Homo sapiens: one gene and its partner. Each later gene encodes a partner of the first gene's protein in a complex. Each region holds a gene or a part of one and is shown on either strand. Other genes may lie near its edges. A codon is read from its position in the direction of its gene.

Region 1 (8,002 bases):
AAAATCAAGGACACGATGTCTGGAAGGTACCTGGAAGCTTCAGAGCTCTCCAGATGAAAGCTACTTTTGTCTGCATGTTCCTTTCCCTCTGGGATCCCGAGCCATGGCGTCCGTCCTTGAGGATGGAGTGGCTTGAGGGTGTTGCGAGGAGCTTGTGTTTTCCACTTGTTGTTTGCAGCTCATGGCAGAGAAATTGCAGCTGCAGGAGCAGCTCCAGGCAGAAACCGAGCTGTGTGCCGAGGCTGAGGAGCTCCGGGCCCGCCTGACCGCCAAGAAGCAGGAATTAGAAGAGATCTGCCATGACCTAGAGGCCAGGGTGGAGGAGGAGGAGGAGCGCTGCCAGCACCTGCAGGCGGAGAAGAAGAAGATGCAGCAGAACATCCAGGTTCCTGCCCGCTGCACCCGGGGAGGGGTGGCGCCGGAGGGGCAGGGCGGGGCGGAGGAGCAGGAACCAGGAGCTGGGAGAACATGGAATTAGGGTCCAAGGAGGCTGCTCCTCACGCAATCTGCTTGGGGCTCTCAGTGAGAGGTGTTCCCTTTGGGCTGGTAGTTTGTGACATGTGCATCTGAGATCTCCATGAGCACTGCCTGGGCCAGCATCAAGGCCAATTTGATTTCCCTGCCATTAGCCCTGGCCCTGGCTAGCCGAAGGGGCACAGGGCCAGCACCTCTGCGTCCTGCCTGTTTCATGGGTGGGAGCTTGCTGCAGGAAACCCTTCAGAACATTGCACCGATGTTCTGGCCCTGTGTCCCAGTTTGAAATCTGGAATCCTACAAATGGGGCTTGGGCCCTGCCTCGGCTGTGGCCCTGGGCTGGCGGACCTTGCCGTCCCCACCTCAGCCATGGCCCTGGGCTCACAGACCTTGCTATTTTCTCCTTGGCGTTTGGATCTGGCCTTCGGACCTTGCTGCCTTCACCTTGGCCATGCCTCTGGGCCTGCTGTCCTTACCGTGTCTCTGGCCCCCGGCAGGAGCTTGAGGAGCAGCTGGAGGAGGAGGAGAGCGCCCGGCAGAAGCTGCAGCTGGAGAAGGTGACCACCGAGGCGAAGCTGAAAAAGCTGGAGGAGGAGCAGATCATCCTGGAGGACCAGAACTGCAAGCTGGCCAAGGTGAGGCCCGTGGCTGTCGCCTGCCGCTGCTCCAGGGGCGCCGTGGATGGGAGAGTGTGGTCACCCTTGCAGGGCCTGGCTCCCCGCTGCTGCTGCTTCCTGTCTCTTCTGCCTGCAGCATGAGGGCTTCTGCTTAACTGCAAGTGCTCCCTGGAGGTCCCATGGGCCTTAGTTGAGGGATTTCCTCATAAGCAAAGGGGCCCTGGGGAAGGGTTTGTCCTTTCCCCTCTGGAAAGCTCTTCTTTGCCAGCCGTGAGACCCGAGCCTGTGTAAAGGTGGCCATCTGTGCAGCATTGCAAGTGTTGGTCACTGTGGGGTTGGGGACACCTTGGTGGCTCTGTGTTGAGATACGGGGTACTCTTCCTCCACTGTCCCTGGGCGGCAGCTATTCCTCTTGAGAATGAGTTGGGTCCCTGTCGGTGTCTGCCCAGGGAGCAGATAGCAGCCGGGGAACCAGTTAGAGGAGAAGGCAGGAGAAGGCAGCCTCCCCACCTTTCGGGCCTCCTCAGAACATGGGAGCCCCAAAGGCTGGGGAGGCTGAGGTGGCAGGACGCCCACCCGGGACTGGGATGAGGGGACTCAGGTGCTTGTGCCGAGCTGTGGCCGCTGGGCAGGGGTGTTGCAGGGGCCACACAGAACAGAAAGCAAGGAGAGCAGCCCGGGGCACCGCGGGGCTGAAGAGGGGGAGGGGCCGTGGCCCACCTGGCAGGTGAGAGAGGGGCACGGAGAAGGTGGCCTGGTGGCGCAGGTGAGCGCCGTGTGGCAGCCTCTTGAAGGAGTGGAGCCATCTGTCCCTGCTGACACTAGCTGTCACCTGGAATCCTTTCTCACCCAAGCCCACAGGGGAAGGGGAAGGGCTTGGGCACCCACATTTTTTGGTTCTAAGGAAGCGTACCTCGCTGTTTCAGGGGAGCTCGTGACCTTTCAAAATTATCCTTTGATCTAGGAAAATCCTAATGAACTTGATCAAGCGTCTAAAGCCCTCTCCATTCAGCCCCAGATTTCCGGGCGAGTCATGCTTTGAGGCTAGCAAGTGTTCTGTGCTCAACCAACACTAAATGCCAGCCTACTCCCCTCTCCCCAGGAAAAGAAACTGCTGGAAGACAGAATAGCTGAGTTCACCACCAACCTCACAGAAGAGGAGGAGAAATCTAAGAGCCTCGCCAAGCTCAAGAACAAGCATGAGGCAATGATCACTGACTTGGAAGGTGAGGGGGTGACGAGCAGGAGGTGATGGGCAGGGGCTGGCGGGCAAGGGCTGGCGGTCAGGGGCCGGCCTGTCTGACCGGAACACCGAGGCCTTCTCAGCTCACGGGTGAGCCTGGGTCACACTACAGCACTGGCTGCTGCCCTTTAGACCTGAGGTCACCAGGTCGAGGGGAGCCGTGTCTGGTGCCTGCGGGAACCTGAGCCTCCAGGCCCCTGTTGCTCTGTGGCTAGATGCCCCCACTGCATGAAGCGTGTTTAGAGAGCTTTGGCATTGCTCTGTTGTGTGCCGTGGGTTTTGGAAGCTTCTGAGACTTCCTAGGAGGCTCCGGGTTTGACCCACAGGACTCACTAGCTCTGTCACTGACTAGCTGGCTCATCTTGCAGCTATGACTTAAGCTCCATGAGCTTTAGTTTTACCTAAAAAGGGGACACAGTGCTAGGGTGTCTGTGAGAATTTCATTAAATACATGTGAACACATATGTACCGTAAAGTCCTAGACGAATACTGCGGAAGTTCATTGCTTGACTTGGGGCAGGGTGACAAATCCTGCCTTGTCTCTGTGTGCCCTCGGGATCTGTGGCAGGGAGGGGGTGCTGGGGTAGAAGCACAGGTCCGTGGCTGTCTGAGGACCCCCAGCCCTGCCCCTTGAGAGGAGTGGACAGCTGGGGGAACAGGGGAACCCCGACTACTCTGGGAACTCTGAGCTCATACCCAGGGGAGGGAGACCAAAACCTGACCACCGGGAGGATTATCCCCAGCTTAGTTTCACAGTCTTGTCCGGCCCCCTCACATCTGCAGGGGATGAGGTGAGTCAGGTCCAGCAGAAGAGAGGTCCGGACACAGAGAGATCTCTTCCCTCACAGACACCCTCCCTCACCTGGGAGGAGCCCGGAAGACTTGGTCATCTAGGAGGTCTAGGGGTTGCCTTGCACCCACCAGATGGACAGACATGAAAGGTTGACACTAATAAGGGCTAACATAGACACGGAGCTGTCAGAGCACACATATGCTGCTGCTGGGACTGCAAACTGGTAGACGGCGTTAGAGAACGATCCGGCAGTCCTAGTGAGGTTGAAACTTAGCATGCCGGTGACCTGGCCGTTCCATCCGTCACTCAGCCGTGTGCACTGAGAGTGAGCAGGATGCTTGCAGCAGCGTTGATCAGAGCGTGCGATGAACACAGCCGCATGCCCGCCAGCTGCAGGACGGGTACATAAGTAAGTTGTGGTGTATTCTCATAATGGAATCCTAGACAAATGTCCTTACACATCTATTCCAGCGAAACTTCACGGGCTACATCTCAAGATCACGTGATGGGGTGGCAAAGGCACGGCAGGGAATAACCATCACGAGGCAGGCACTGTTCTAGGTGCTTTTTAAGATAGTAACTCATTGGCGCCTCACAGCATCCTAATGAAGTAGGCTGTCTCCTTTTGCTTATTATTCAGATGAGGTATAGAAAGTAGCTTTCCCAAGTGACATCACAGAGTTATAAAGCTAGACATAGAGCCCTGACCGTGCGATTCCAACTGTGGAATTCACACAAGGCAGTTCCATTATATAAGTTCAGATTCACACACAATTGAACATGTTTTTTAGAGATACAGACATGGTACAGCCTTCAAGGGAACCAAGGGAATTACAAACACCAGCTTTAGGAGAGTACTTAATTCCTGGCAGGGAAGGACAAGGGGTGAGTTGGAGAGAGACATGCCAGGGGCTAGCAGTTTGCAGTGATGTCCTCTTCCTGCATCCAGGAGTTGGGTGCGAGTGTCTGTGTGTTTGTGATGCTTTAAGCCTGACACACGTTTCATAACGAGTGCTCAGTATTTTGTATAAGTAATTGACACGGAGACAGAACCCATGGCACTGAGGGCTATGTGGGCTCCCCCTGCATTGCAGAGCGCCTCCGCAGGGAGGAGAAGCAGCGACAGGAGCTGGAGAAGACCCGCCGGAAGCTGGAGGGAGACTCCACAGACCTCAGCGACCAGATCGCCGAGCTCCAGGCCCAGATCGCGGAGCTCAAGATGCAGCTGGCCAAGAAAGAGGAGGAGCTCCAGGCCGCCCTGGCCAGGTGAGGACCCCGCCTGCCCGCCTGAGGCCAGGTGGCCTGGGCCAGCCCTTCCTGCTTGCTGCTGGCCCTAGTTCTCGGCACTAGTGAGCTGTGAGCATTCTTTCCACTGTTGTCTTAAAAGAGCCATTTATTTCATAGCAAAACAGTTCTTGTGCACTCAGGGCATGGTGAGGGGCCTCATTTGTCTTTTGTTTGTTTATAATTTGAAAAAAAGTCATCCACAGCTCTATCACCCACCTACAATAGTCCTTTCCTAATTTCTTGCTATAGGCACACTTAAAAAAAAAAAAAAAAAAAAAAAAGACTTGACCAGGCACGTTGGCTCACGTCTGTGATCCCAGCACTTTGGGAGGCCAAGCCGGGTGGATCACTTGAGGTCAGGAGTTCGAGACCAGCCTGGCCAACATGGTGAAACCCCCATCCCTACCAAAAATATAAAAAATTCGCCAGTGTGGTGGCACACGACTGTAATCTCACCTACTCAGGAGGCTGAGGCAGGAGAATCACTTGAACCCAGGAGGCAGAGGTTGCAGTCAGCCAAGATCGTGCCATTGCACTCCAGCCTAGGTGACAGAGCGAGACTCTGTTTAAAAAAAAAAGAAAGAGACTTTATTTTTTAGAGTAGTTTTAGATTCACAGAAGAGTCAGCAGAAGATTCTCCATCTATCCACTGCCCCACTCACGCACCGCCTCCCCTGCAGTCAACATCCCCTACCACAGTGCTGTGTCTGTTCTAATTGGTGAACCTACGTTGACCTGTCATAACCATCTAAAGTCCGTAGCACATTCGTATTTTTACTGAGTTGCAGTTGTCCTGTGGTGTAGCGTTTTATTTCCTTTTCTTCCCATTTAACACATCATTTGACTTTTAAAAATATTTGAAGCAGTGAATCTTACTTTGGAAATTGAAACGATTCCTCTATGAGGTTTTCTGCTTCTCAGAGGGGTGTTGCCCTTCAATCTGGTTGTCTCAGATGTTGTTTCTGCTGAGAGCCATCCTAAGTGCCATGATTGTGACCACAGGAGGCAGCTTTGGCTGCTGCAGCTCTCTCAGGCCTGTCCTGCAAACTCTGCTCCTTGGAGGTGAAACTCTCCTTATACTGATGTTGCTGGTCGCTTTGGCAGAGTGGAAGAGGAAGCTGCCCAGAAGAACATGGCCCTCAAGAAGATCCGGGAGCTGGAATCTCAGATCTCTGAACTCCAGGAAGACCTGGAGTCTGAGCGTGCTTCCAGGAATAAAGCTGAGAAGCAGAAACGGGACCTTGGGGAAGAGCTAGAGGCTCTGAAAACAGAGTTGGAGGACACGCTGGATTCCACAGCTGCCCAGCAGGAGCTCAGGTGTGCCCTGGGACCAAGTCCCTCGGGATGGGGAGGGCAGCCAGGGGGGCCTTGGCTTGGAGACATGGACCCCGGGCCTCTGCACACACACACACACACACACCGTGGCCCTCTTAGGCACCAGCAGGCATGGAAGCTGCTGGTTCCTCAGCGGTTTCTCTCTACAGAGTAGAAAGTCTGTTGAAGGACCTGGCTCAAAGTTGGGGGTGAGGCAAGGCTGGGCTTTAAAGCTGAAAGGCTACAGAAGCTCTCACAGGGCGTATTTGAGCCTGGGCTATGGGATAGATGGCTAGGAGGGGCCGGTGGGTAGAAAAGCTGCCTGGAGTGCCTGTGCCCTGGCCAGGCCTCTCTTTGGTCAGGGAAGAGCCCCAGGGACAGCCTCGCTCCAGCATCCCCGGCCTCCACTCTGAGGGGATTTCTCTGTCCAGGTCAAAACGTGAGCAGGAGGTGAACATCCTGAAGAAGACCCTGGAGGAGGAGGCCAAGACCCACGAGGCCCAGATCCAGGAGATGAGGCAGAAGCACTCACAGGCCGTGGAGGAGCTGGCGGAGCAGCTGGAGCAGACGAAGCGGGTGCGGAGCCTCCCTGAGACCGCAGGGGGAGGGCAGGGTTCCCCGTGCTGGGCCCACAGAATCCAAACCAGTCCTGCAGAGCAGTTGCAGGGTTCTACCCAACTGCCTGGTTCTGAGGCCAGGCTCCCCTTCTAAGGGGCTTTGTGACTCGTGCCTCAGTTTCCCTGTTCATAAGGGAGGATTATGGTATGTCTGTCTCGTGATTATTTGAGGGTGAAAACATTACATCGTTACTTTGAACATCAGACTTCAGACAGGCTTTATTGGAAGTCTAACTGCAAACAATTATAGTTCCCCTTATTGCGTTACAAATATTGCTAACATCTGCAACACCAATGCCATGCCCTAGAACCTGGCCTCTACCCAGGGCAGAAGGCTGGGCAGGTATTATTTTAGAGATGGGGAAGCTGTGAGATGTCCTAAGCAGTGAAGACAGGAACCAAGTGTCACCCACCAGCTAAGAGAGAAGAGGACAGGACAGATGAGGCCCGAGCCGTCTGAGTCCAGGACGCAGGCACACCGTCGTCAGGGCTGCAGAAGCAGCGATGTCTGGATCTAGGGTCCAGTGATGATAGACCAGCCAGCCTTGTGTCAGGAGGCCCCCACTCACGTCTTTGCTTTCTTCCCTGCTAGGTGAAAGCAAACCTCGAGAAGGCAAAGCAGACTCTGGAGAACGAGCGGGGGGAGCTGGCCAACGAGGTGAAGGTGCTGCTGCAGGGCAAAGGGGACTCGGAGCACAAGCGCAAGAAAGTGGAGGCGCAGCTGCAGGAGCTGCAGGTCAAGTTCAACGAGGGAGAGCGCGTGCGCACAGAGCTGGCCGACAAGGTCACCAAGCTGCAGGTGAGGCCTCCGCCAGGACCCTGGCGCGGGCAGTGGGCCCTAGCAGCAGTTGTGGCCCAGGTCCCCAGGTGCATGTGTGCTCTCTGTCTCTCTCTCTTCTCAAACTGGCTCCTCAGACCCTCATGGTTCAGCTTGTGACTCAGGTCCAGCTTTACCTAAAGGAGATGAGGTGGGGCAGGAGCAGTGGGGGTGGGTCCATGGTCCTTTGTGTCTCCCCGCCCGGTGCAGGTGGAGCTGGACAACGTGACCGGGCTTCTCAGCCAGTCCGACAGCAAGTCCAGCAAGCTCACCAAGGACTTCTCCGCGCTGGAGTCCCAGCTGCAGGACACTCAGGTAGGGGTGGCGCCAGGTTCCCAGAAGGTGGACCCCTCCAGAAAGGCCTCTGTGTCCACGCAACATTAGCTTCAGAGCCCATCGGATTGCCCATCCTCTCCTTCATCTGCTTCATCCTGTGGGTGGGTCTCTGCGTCCTCCCAGCTCCCTCCAGGTCTTTACGTGGCCATCCCCTAAATCAGCAGGACCAGCTCCTCCCTCTCCTCAAGGGTGTGGGGTTCCTGGGTTTTGGACACCACCCTCCTAAGCACCCGCACCCCTCTCAACCCGCGAGTAGGAGCTGCTGCAGGAGGAGAACCGGCAGAAGCTGAGCCTGAGCACCAAGCTCAAGCAGGTGGAGGACGAGAAGAATTCCTTCCGGGAGCAGCTGGAGGAGGAGGAGGAGGCCAAGCACAACCTGGAGAAGCAGATCGCCACCCTCCATGCCCAGGTTTGGAGGCCTGGGGGACCGGCCGGACTCTGCAGGCTGGGGAGCTGCTGGCCGGGCACTGGCCTGGGCACTGCAGGACAGCCCTGCCCGCTGGG
Region 2 (7,725 bases), on another chromosome or scaffold:
CCACCACTGCACCCTGGAGCCACTGGCCTTGAACCTACCTAAGGGGAAGCAATATCATGCCTTATATTTTCTGGGGGGAAAATAATCTCAATTTCATTTGTCAGATCATATATGTGGAATTTTGTCTCCAAAACTATGGTCACCTTCCCACCATTTGCCTCACTCCCACTCCAGCCACTGACCCCCACTCATCTCTTCTGAGGTCCCCTGTCCTTCTCTGAAGGAGCTTGATTCCTGACTGATAACAGATCTCATCCAGGGACCTTTATGGCAGAGACGGTGGATTCGAGAATGCCTATATTCTCATGCTGCTGCAAACAGCGGGTCTCCCTCCACATTGCCCTCCCTGATCCTACCACGCACAGGAAAGGATTAATCCATCCCTGTGGTTTGAAGCCAATGATCTGGAAGTGGGTGGCAGGACAGGGCCTGGACTGTCAACGTCAGCACTGAGTGCCAGCCCTCCTCCCCATCCCACTCTCGCCTAAATACTTCCTCCCTGCAACTCAGCCTTATTCTTTTCCCTCCGACTTACTCCCAGGACACCCAAACTCCATTCCAGACCCCAACCAGGAACAGATATGACCTTCAATTCCAGCCTCGGTTCAAGATCCTGCCAGAGGCAAGGTTGGAGAGAGGTGGGAGGGGTAAGTGGGCTGGCTGAGATCCCACAGCTGGGACCTTCCAAACCTTGGCAGGGGGGTGGTGAGGGGTCCCCTTCTCGGCTTTGACCACACCGAGTGAACTCTATTGCCTGTGCACACACACTGTTAGTCACCCTGCATCCCTCCCCTAACTTCACTGGTCTGCTGTCCATAAAACTTCAGCTCAACTCCCAGCTCTCCCCACCACCACCCCACAACATATCCCTCAGTCCCCAACCCACGCCCCCAGAGTCTCTCAAACCATCAGCCTCAAAACTTCCAAGAATCTTTATTGAACTTGCTCAGCATCAAGCACGTGTCTGAAGGAGCCAGGGTGGAAAAAAAAAAGTGCCCACTGGCGACAGGGAGGGCCCCAGCTGGCAGACCCCCCAACCACATCAGAGGAGTTTTCATTTCTTCCTGGGCTGCTTATCTGGGAAGCCTTCAAAGAATTCGTTACACATCATGGCGATGCAGGACAGGAAGACACAGTACTCTTGGAAGTCCACCTCGTTGTCCCTGTTGCTGTCCAAGTTGCTCATCAGCTTCTGGAAAGCAGCTTCATCTGTCCTTTTCTGGAGGGAGAAGAGGCTACAGATAGAAAACAGAAGCCCAGTGGGTGGAGCCAGGACCAGACCCAGTTTCTACTCCCAGACCAGAGTTCAGGGAGGCTCCTTTGGGAGGTCCAGTTTGGAACTCCAACCCTCAAGGCTAAGCTAGGGTGGAGAAGGTGCTCCTTGGATAAGGAAGTCTGAGTACCTGGTGCAATGGAAAAATGACGGGACCACTACATTTTCACCCAAGGTTGTTCTAATAATCCCATGAGGTAGTAATAGTCATGAAAACAATATATAAACTGTGTTATGTTTGATACAAATATACATTGTTATTGTTTGAAGGGAACGTCTGCAGGCCTGTGATCATCTCCACATCTGTGTCTTCACATCTACAAGCCAAATAGAAACTCAAACAGTGTCCACTGTTGGAGTGATGGCAAGAGTCAGACAGTCCCGGTCCGGATGGCAGTTGTGTACACTGACCACCTTGGGAAGTTACTTAGCACTCTGAGCTTAGTCTTCCCTTCAGTTAAGTTGTGCAAAGCACCTGGCAGTGTCTGACCCATTCATTCTCAGCCCTCTTTCAGCATGGGGCCAGGCAGTGAGTGGTGGTGTTCAATGTGTTTCCACCCCAGGCAGCCACCCCACTGATAGATGCCCTCTGTAGCTAATGCTCTAGAGCAAGACTGCTGCCCTCCTCTGTGGGAAATGCCCCACGTGGGGACTCACTCAGGCACTACCCACTCACCCCCAAGAAGCTGGGCAGCTCCCGGGTCAGCAGCTCCTTTAGTTCTGACTTGTTGAGCTTGAACTTGTCACCCTCTTTGCCCGAGTACTTGTGGAAGGTGGACACCATCACATCCAGGGCCTTCTCCAGAGGGCACGCCATGACAGCAGTCAGGATCTGGGAGCAGGAGGCACAGAGACCGTCTTATTAATCCCACCCCTCAGAGATGTGTTCAGAATGCCAGGCTCCACTCCCATCCCTCCAGGAGCACTTGGCGAGACTCTGCTCCCTCCCTGGGGGAGCCCAGAGCAGTGGGCCCCCGCACCTGGCTGGGAGGGTGTGCACAGTGGGGAACACATGCTCTGGGCAGTGAACATTTGCAAGATCCGCTGCGCAAGCTCTGGAGATTCGGGCAGCAAACTCCCAGGGCCTCCCAGGCCTTGCCTCAACAACAGCATTTTTTCCACCCCTCACTCAGTCTATCCACTCCCACAGCTCAGCCACAAAGGCCCCGCCCTTGCCATTCTTTTCCCTCCCAGAACTGGGTGTGGCTGCTGGAGGCCTGCCCAGGGGCCTGCAGTGGAAAAAACCAGCACAGCCGCTTAGCTCTCAGCATGGGGAGGGGCAAAGTGAGGTGGCAGAGGCAAGGGTTGGAAGAGAAGCTGCAGAGGCCATGCACCTTCTCGAGCTGGGCTGCTGCGTGCAGGGCAGAGGCTCATGGGGCACACCACCAGACAAAGGCCCACAGTTGCCTTCTGCCTTTCCTTTGCTTCCTGCTCCCGAGTGCGCAACCCAGCAAACATGAGCCAGTGCAGATACCCACAGGCACATACATACCAACACGTACTATAGCAACAGCGTGTGCAAGCCCACATCTCAGAAGCACCTGGAGAGCTCAAATTCAGTCACTTGCTCACTTTTCTGTTTGTTTTTTCCTCCGTCTTACGTGCATGTGTGTGTGTGCCATGCACACCCACGCACACAATCCACCCAGAGTTCCACATCAGAATCTCACATCTGGATCTCTTTAGCACATCTGGCCCCCACCAGCCTCCCCTTCTCCTTCCCCAGCCCTGGCCTCTGACACCCCTTGCATGCCAGTCAGGCCAACACAACTCACCAAACCAAGAAAGAAGAAGCGCTGAGGAGAGAGGGTTGTAGAGAGGGGAAGAATGGGGACGGCCCAGAGGTCTGACCTATTTATACCCCAGCCAGGCCCTGCCCATAGCAGGGGACAGGGGAGAGCGGATACTGCCTTCCTGCTGTGGGCTGATGCGGTAAGTGCCACAGCACCCTCCACCAGCCCAGCCGTGGAACCAAGCCTCCTGTTCCCAGGTGGGCACCCGTGGGTAACGGGTAAGCCCTAGCGGTTACTAGCAGGGGACTGGATGAGATGGGCACCACCCAGTGTACATAGCTCAGCCTGAGTTTTAGAGAGGTGGAGGAAGGGGCAGCCTGTGCCTGGAGCATGGGGGACAGGGAGTAGTCCCATGGGGACCTAGGAAAGGAGATGCAGGGGGTGGTGGGTGACAGGTGGGAGATTGCCCTGGAAATGTGGTGACACAAAAGCTAGGGGGGAGATGGGAGGATCGCCTGAGGCCAGGAGTTCAAGACCAGCCTAGGCAACATAGAGAGACTTCTGTCTCTATAAAAAGGAAAAACAATTTTTTTTTTTAATTAGCTGGGCAGCATGGCTGTAGCCTGTAGTCCCAGCTAGTCAGGAAGCTGAGACAGGAGGATCATTTGAGCCCAGGAGTTCGAGACTGCAGTTGGCTATGCTCAAGCCACTGCTCTCCAGCCTGAGCAACACAGAGGACCTTGTCTCTTAAAAAAATAAAGATTCAGAAACAAAAACTGGGGTGGGGATCCCCATGCCCGGTACTGTCTGCCATGCCAAGTAAGGCTCAGGGTCGGGGCGGGGGGATCTGGAGGGGAACAGGCTCACACCCAAAGGAGGCTCTGGGACCACCTCAGGAACGTCAGTGGGAAAGGTCCTGGGTGAGGTAGTGATGGAGTGGAGTGGCAGTGAGGCGTGGGGGCTCACGGATAGATCTCAGGTTCGGAGAGGGTATCAGGAGGGGCCATTTAAAGTTGGGATGAGTGTCAGGAATGAAGAATCCAGGTTGGGGTGGAGAGTTAGAGGTGAAATGGCATGAAATAGGGGAGTTATAATTCGGGTCAACCTCTCAGGGTGGGCTACAAACCCAGTGAGGGTTAGAAGTAGGGGGTTAAGGCCCTCAGGGGGCTGCGGCTTCAGGGATAGGGGCTAGCTCAAGTTATTCCCTTACCCCTCCATACAGAGCACCCCTTCCTGGCTGGGAGAAACACCTCAGACACCCTAATCCCATTAGTGCTGCTCTCTGGGCTCCCACAGCCCGAGGCAGGGAACAAACACCCCCACTGCACCCACGGCCCCACCCTCCTCCAACCATGAGCACTGAGTCCCAGGGGAAACTCAGGCAGTCCTCTCTCAAAGATCCCAAAGAAAGAGAGAGAGGAAGGGAGGACAGGGGTCCTTGTTTTGTCCCCACGCCCTCCTGCTGGACCCTGGAGGCCACTGCATTTCTGCAGGGTCTGCAACTTCCCTCAGGGAGCACCCTGCCCCTGCCCTCAGCTGCCTTCCCGCAGTGGAAAAGGCCAGAGAGGAGCAAAGAGCTCAGGAGACGCGTCCTCAGAGAAGAACCAAACAAAACCAAGCTGATGCCAGTTTTTTATTAGGAGTTAAATAGGCCCTTTCCCATCGTGGTCTCATTGGTGCACGCTCTGCTGAGCCTCGAGGGCCTCAGAGCAGATCCCGCCTCCTCCCATCCACAAGGGAGGCCACAGGGGTGCGGCAGGCAGGCTGGGCCCCAGAGTGGCTCTACCCCTCATTCGCTGGGCATCCTGAGGAAGGAGCCCTCACATCTCTGGGCCTCCTAGGTAAAATGGGTTAACTGATCGCAGAAGACCTGGGCAAGTCCAGATTGAAAGGGGTACAGGAGAGAGGGTAGGAGGGGGTGTGGGAGACATGCCCAGCCCCCGACAGCCAGCGCACCCCCTGGAGCAGAGGCTACTGGGAGCAGGGGGGCTCTGAGGGGCAGTCCTTGAAGTACTCGTGGCAGTAGAGACAGAGGCAGGCAAGTGAGCGCACATACTCCACAAAGTCCACCTCGCAGTCCTTGTTGGTGTCCAGAACACTCATGAATTTGTTGTAGTCACATTCCCGAAACTCAGTCTGTGCAAGGGAAGGGTTGGGAGAGGTAAGGGAGTAGGATGAGGAGGGCAGAACAGCCTCACACGCCACCTCCCTCCTTCCTCTCCCAAGTGGACCCACCCCACCCCAAACTACACCCTTCTGAGGGCCGACTTCAACCTCCCTGCTCTGATAATGCACTCGTTGCAATCCCCTCCCAAATCTGTCCTCTCAGATTATTAATCGAGCACCTACTATTTGCTACTGAGTGCCTACCAAGTGTTAGGCATTCTTCATGGTGCTCTCACTCAGTCCTCTCAACAGCTCTGCAAGGCAGCAGGGATGATTGTCATCCCATTTTACAGATGAGGAAGCTGAGGTTTCTGCTGTGTCAGTTCTCCCCCTCCCACTCCCTCCTCACAATCCAGCCCCCTCCCTTGCTGTCCTGTGCTCATGCTTGTTGTCCCCAGGTCTCTCTTTGCAGAGTCTAGGCAGTGCCTCCCCCCGGAGGAGGAGGGGACGGACACTCTGACTGCTCACCGGGGTCCAGGTGGCCAGCTCCTTCTGCAGCAGCTCCTTGAGCTCCGCCTGGCAGAGCTTGTATTTGTCCCCACAGCGCCCTGCGTATTCCTGGAAGGTGCACACGATGGCAGCTACCGCCTGCTCCAGAGGCCTGGCCATCCTCACTGTCACAGAACAAGGGTGTGGCTCACAGCAGAGTTCCAGGCCAGCCCCCCAGCTCACCTCTGCCCTCTGTGTTTCTCAGAGACTGTTCCCAGACCCATCTTAACCTCCATCAGGCTTCAGGCCCCGCAGTCTCCCCCTCCTCTGAGTAGCCCTCCCAGACCACACCAGCCCCTCCTAATTTATCCCCCTGCTGTCCTGTTGTTATTTCCCCATGTAGAGGTCTCATTGCCCCAACATCGCTGTAAACTCCTCAGAGAGACAGCATCCTACCCCACCACCCACACACCCCACCGTGGGGCTCCTTAAGCACTCTCAGATTATCTGCCACCTCTTCTTATCCCCAACACCCAGGGATGGCTCGGTCCCAGTCTGCCCCAGCCCATGAGATGCCCTAGAAGCCTCCCTCCCTGCAGGAACTTGCACAAGGAGAGCCTGGCCCTGTGCTTCTCTGCCCTCAGCCCTTGGAGAAGCTAGGCCTTAGCAGGGAGGGGCAGGTCTGAGAGGCGCCCCCACAGCCTCACCACCACTGCCCTCACCCTGCCTCCTGCCCTGAACTCGAGGAAGCTGCACCCAGAAGAAAAACTTGTGGGATCCTCTCTGCCTGTCGCCAGCTGTGCAACCTTGGTGAGCCATTTGTCTCTCTGGGTCTCAGGGGCGGGGCCTGATCTGTAAGTTGGGGTTCATCTCACCTCGCTGGCCCAGTCAGGAACCTGAACCAGATGGTCTCTTGAGAGTTGACCAGTTCGGGTGTTTACCAATCTGAGACTGGCCTCCCCTGAGGTTACCCTCCCGACCCCTGGGGGTTTTGAGCAGGGAGGTTCTGTATAGGGATACTCTGTTCTATTGGAGGGGAAGCCCTTCCTGGAATTGCTCACCTCCCCCCACTTCCACTGTCCCCTTCCACCGCCCTTCTGGGATGATGCCTCCAGCCTGGGAAAACCCGAAGGCAGCCAGGAAGGCAAGAGTTTTTTCCATGCTAGCCCAGTGACTCACTCCTGATTCCCCCACGGGACAAGAGTCCTGCAGCACAGGGCGGCCAGGGCCAAGACTCTCCCTGAAGATTTGCCCACTGCTGGGCCCCCTGCTGGGAGCAAATGGCTGGCATGGTTGTGGCTGGCAGGAAAGTAGGGGAAGGGGAGTGGGGAGTGCCAAGCACTGCCAGGATTTAATTCATTGTAAACACCCCAGGATTAGAGCAAGGTGTCCAGGTTCCCAGGAGAGGAAAGGGCCATGATCCTCAGAAATGAGGAGACTCAGAGGTGAAGCAAGGAGGCAAGGAGCAGGTGAGGGGCCTGATCAAGGGGAAGACCAGAGCCTTGAGCCCAGTGCTCCCACCCCAAGGCAGACCTTAGCTCTACACACCTCCCTGCCCAAACTTCCCCAACAGCCCCTCACTGTGTAAGGAAACCTCTGCGTCCACTATATCTGACTTCCCTCCCCGTGTCAGGCCCGCCTGTGGTCATCTCTCTGCTTCCAATGCCAGACCCTGGGTCAGGAGTCAGGCTGGCTACTGGGGGTCCCCAAACTGCCCTGACACTCAACCCAGGGCAGGACCCAAGCAGCTGGCACTCACCACTGGTGCTGGCGTTTCAGCTGTAGGAGCTTAGAGACAGGGCGTCACTATTTGTAGCCTCCCAAGAAAGGAAGGAAGCAATTATGGGGGACACAAGTAGGTCAACACTGAGGATGCCCTCAGGGATCCCTCAGCAGACCCATTACAGGCCCCACCTGCCCACCTATCCACGCACACATCAAAGGCCAGTCTGGGCTCAGACACCACTCCCCTTTCATTCCCCATCTGCCCTCCCCCAGAGTTGGGAACAGGGGACAGTCTCCTGCCAAGTCCTTCCAGCTCAGTTGGAGGAGACAGTCTGGCTTATCCATCACATCACAGCCCCATCTCTTCACTCTGCAGAGGCCCCCAGAATACCAAGTGGG

What was found.
Region 2: the proteins of MYH9 (region 1) and S100A4 are in contact, whole or in part, in an NMR structure (PDB 2LNK), measured with the Homo sapiens proteins. Residues at the interface, in NP_002464.1 of Homo sapiens: Thr1906, Ala1909, Met1910, Glu1913, Val1914, Ser1915, Leu1917, Lys1918, Lys1920, Leu1921, Arg1922, Asp1925, Leu1926, Pro1927, Phe1928, Val1929, Val1930, Pro1931, Arg1932, Met1934, Ala1935; in NP_002952.1 of Homo sapiens: Leu38 (codon at 1,979), Ser44 (codon at 1,961), Phe45 (codon at 1,958), Leu46 (codon at 1,955), Gly47 (codon at 1,952), Lys48 (codon at 1,219), Arg49 (codon at 1,216), Thr50 (codon at 1,213), Asp51 (codon at 1,210), Ala54 (codon at 1,201), Phe55 (codon at 1,198), Lys57 (codon at 1,192), Leu58 (codon at 1,189), Asn61 (codon at 1,180), Leu62 (codon at 1,177), Ser64 (codon at 1,171), Gln73 (codon at 1,144), Glu74 (codon at 1,141), Cys76 (codon at 1,135), Val77 (codon at 1,132), Phe78 (codon at 1,129), Ser80 (codon at 1,123), Cys81 (codon at 1,120), Ile82 (codon at 1,117), Met84 (codon at 1,111), Met85 (codon at 1,108), Cys86 (codon at 1,105), Glu88 (codon at 1,099), Phe89 (codon at 1,096), Phe90 (codon at 1,093).

Annotation. Positions count from the first base shown.
Region 1 is NC_000022.11:36,293,234-36,301,235, reverse strand, and holds part of MYH9 (myosin-9), read left to right. Parts: intron 1-178; coding exon 179-385; intron 386-971; coding exon 972-1,109; intron 1,110-2,193; coding exon 2,194-2,317; intron 2,318-4,221; coding exon 4,222-4,393; intron 4,394-5,518; coding exon 5,519-5,731; intron 5,732-6,159; coding exon 6,160-6,304; intron 6,305-6,937; coding exon 6,938-7,144; intron 7,145-7,372; coding exon 7,373-7,477; intron 7,478-7,754; coding exon 7,755-7,907; intron 7,908-8,002. UniProt on the Homo sapiens protein: Cellular myosin that appears to play a role in cytokinesis, cell shape, and specialized functions such as secretion and capping. Required for cortical actin clearance prior to oocyte exocytosis. Promotes cell motility in conjunction with S100A4.
Region 2 is NC_000001.11:153,542,705-153,550,429, forward strand, and holds S100A4 (protein S100-A4), read right to left. Parts: upstream 3,103-7,725; 5' UTR 3,049-3,102; exon of another isoform or gene 3,038-3,048; intron 2,815-3,037; exon of another isoform or gene 2,766-2,814; intron 2,106-2,765; 5' UTR 2,091-2,105; coding exon 1,950-2,090; intron 1,220-1,949; coding exon 1,055-1,219; 3' UTR 917-1,054; downstream 1-916. Other genes in the region: S100A5 (protein S100-A5), read right to left, coding at 536-557; S100A3 (protein S100-A3), read right to left, coding at 4,978-5,142, 5,641-5,781. UniProt on the Homo sapiens protein: Calcium-binding protein that plays a role in various cellular processes including motility, angiogenesis, cell differentiation, apoptosis, and autophagy.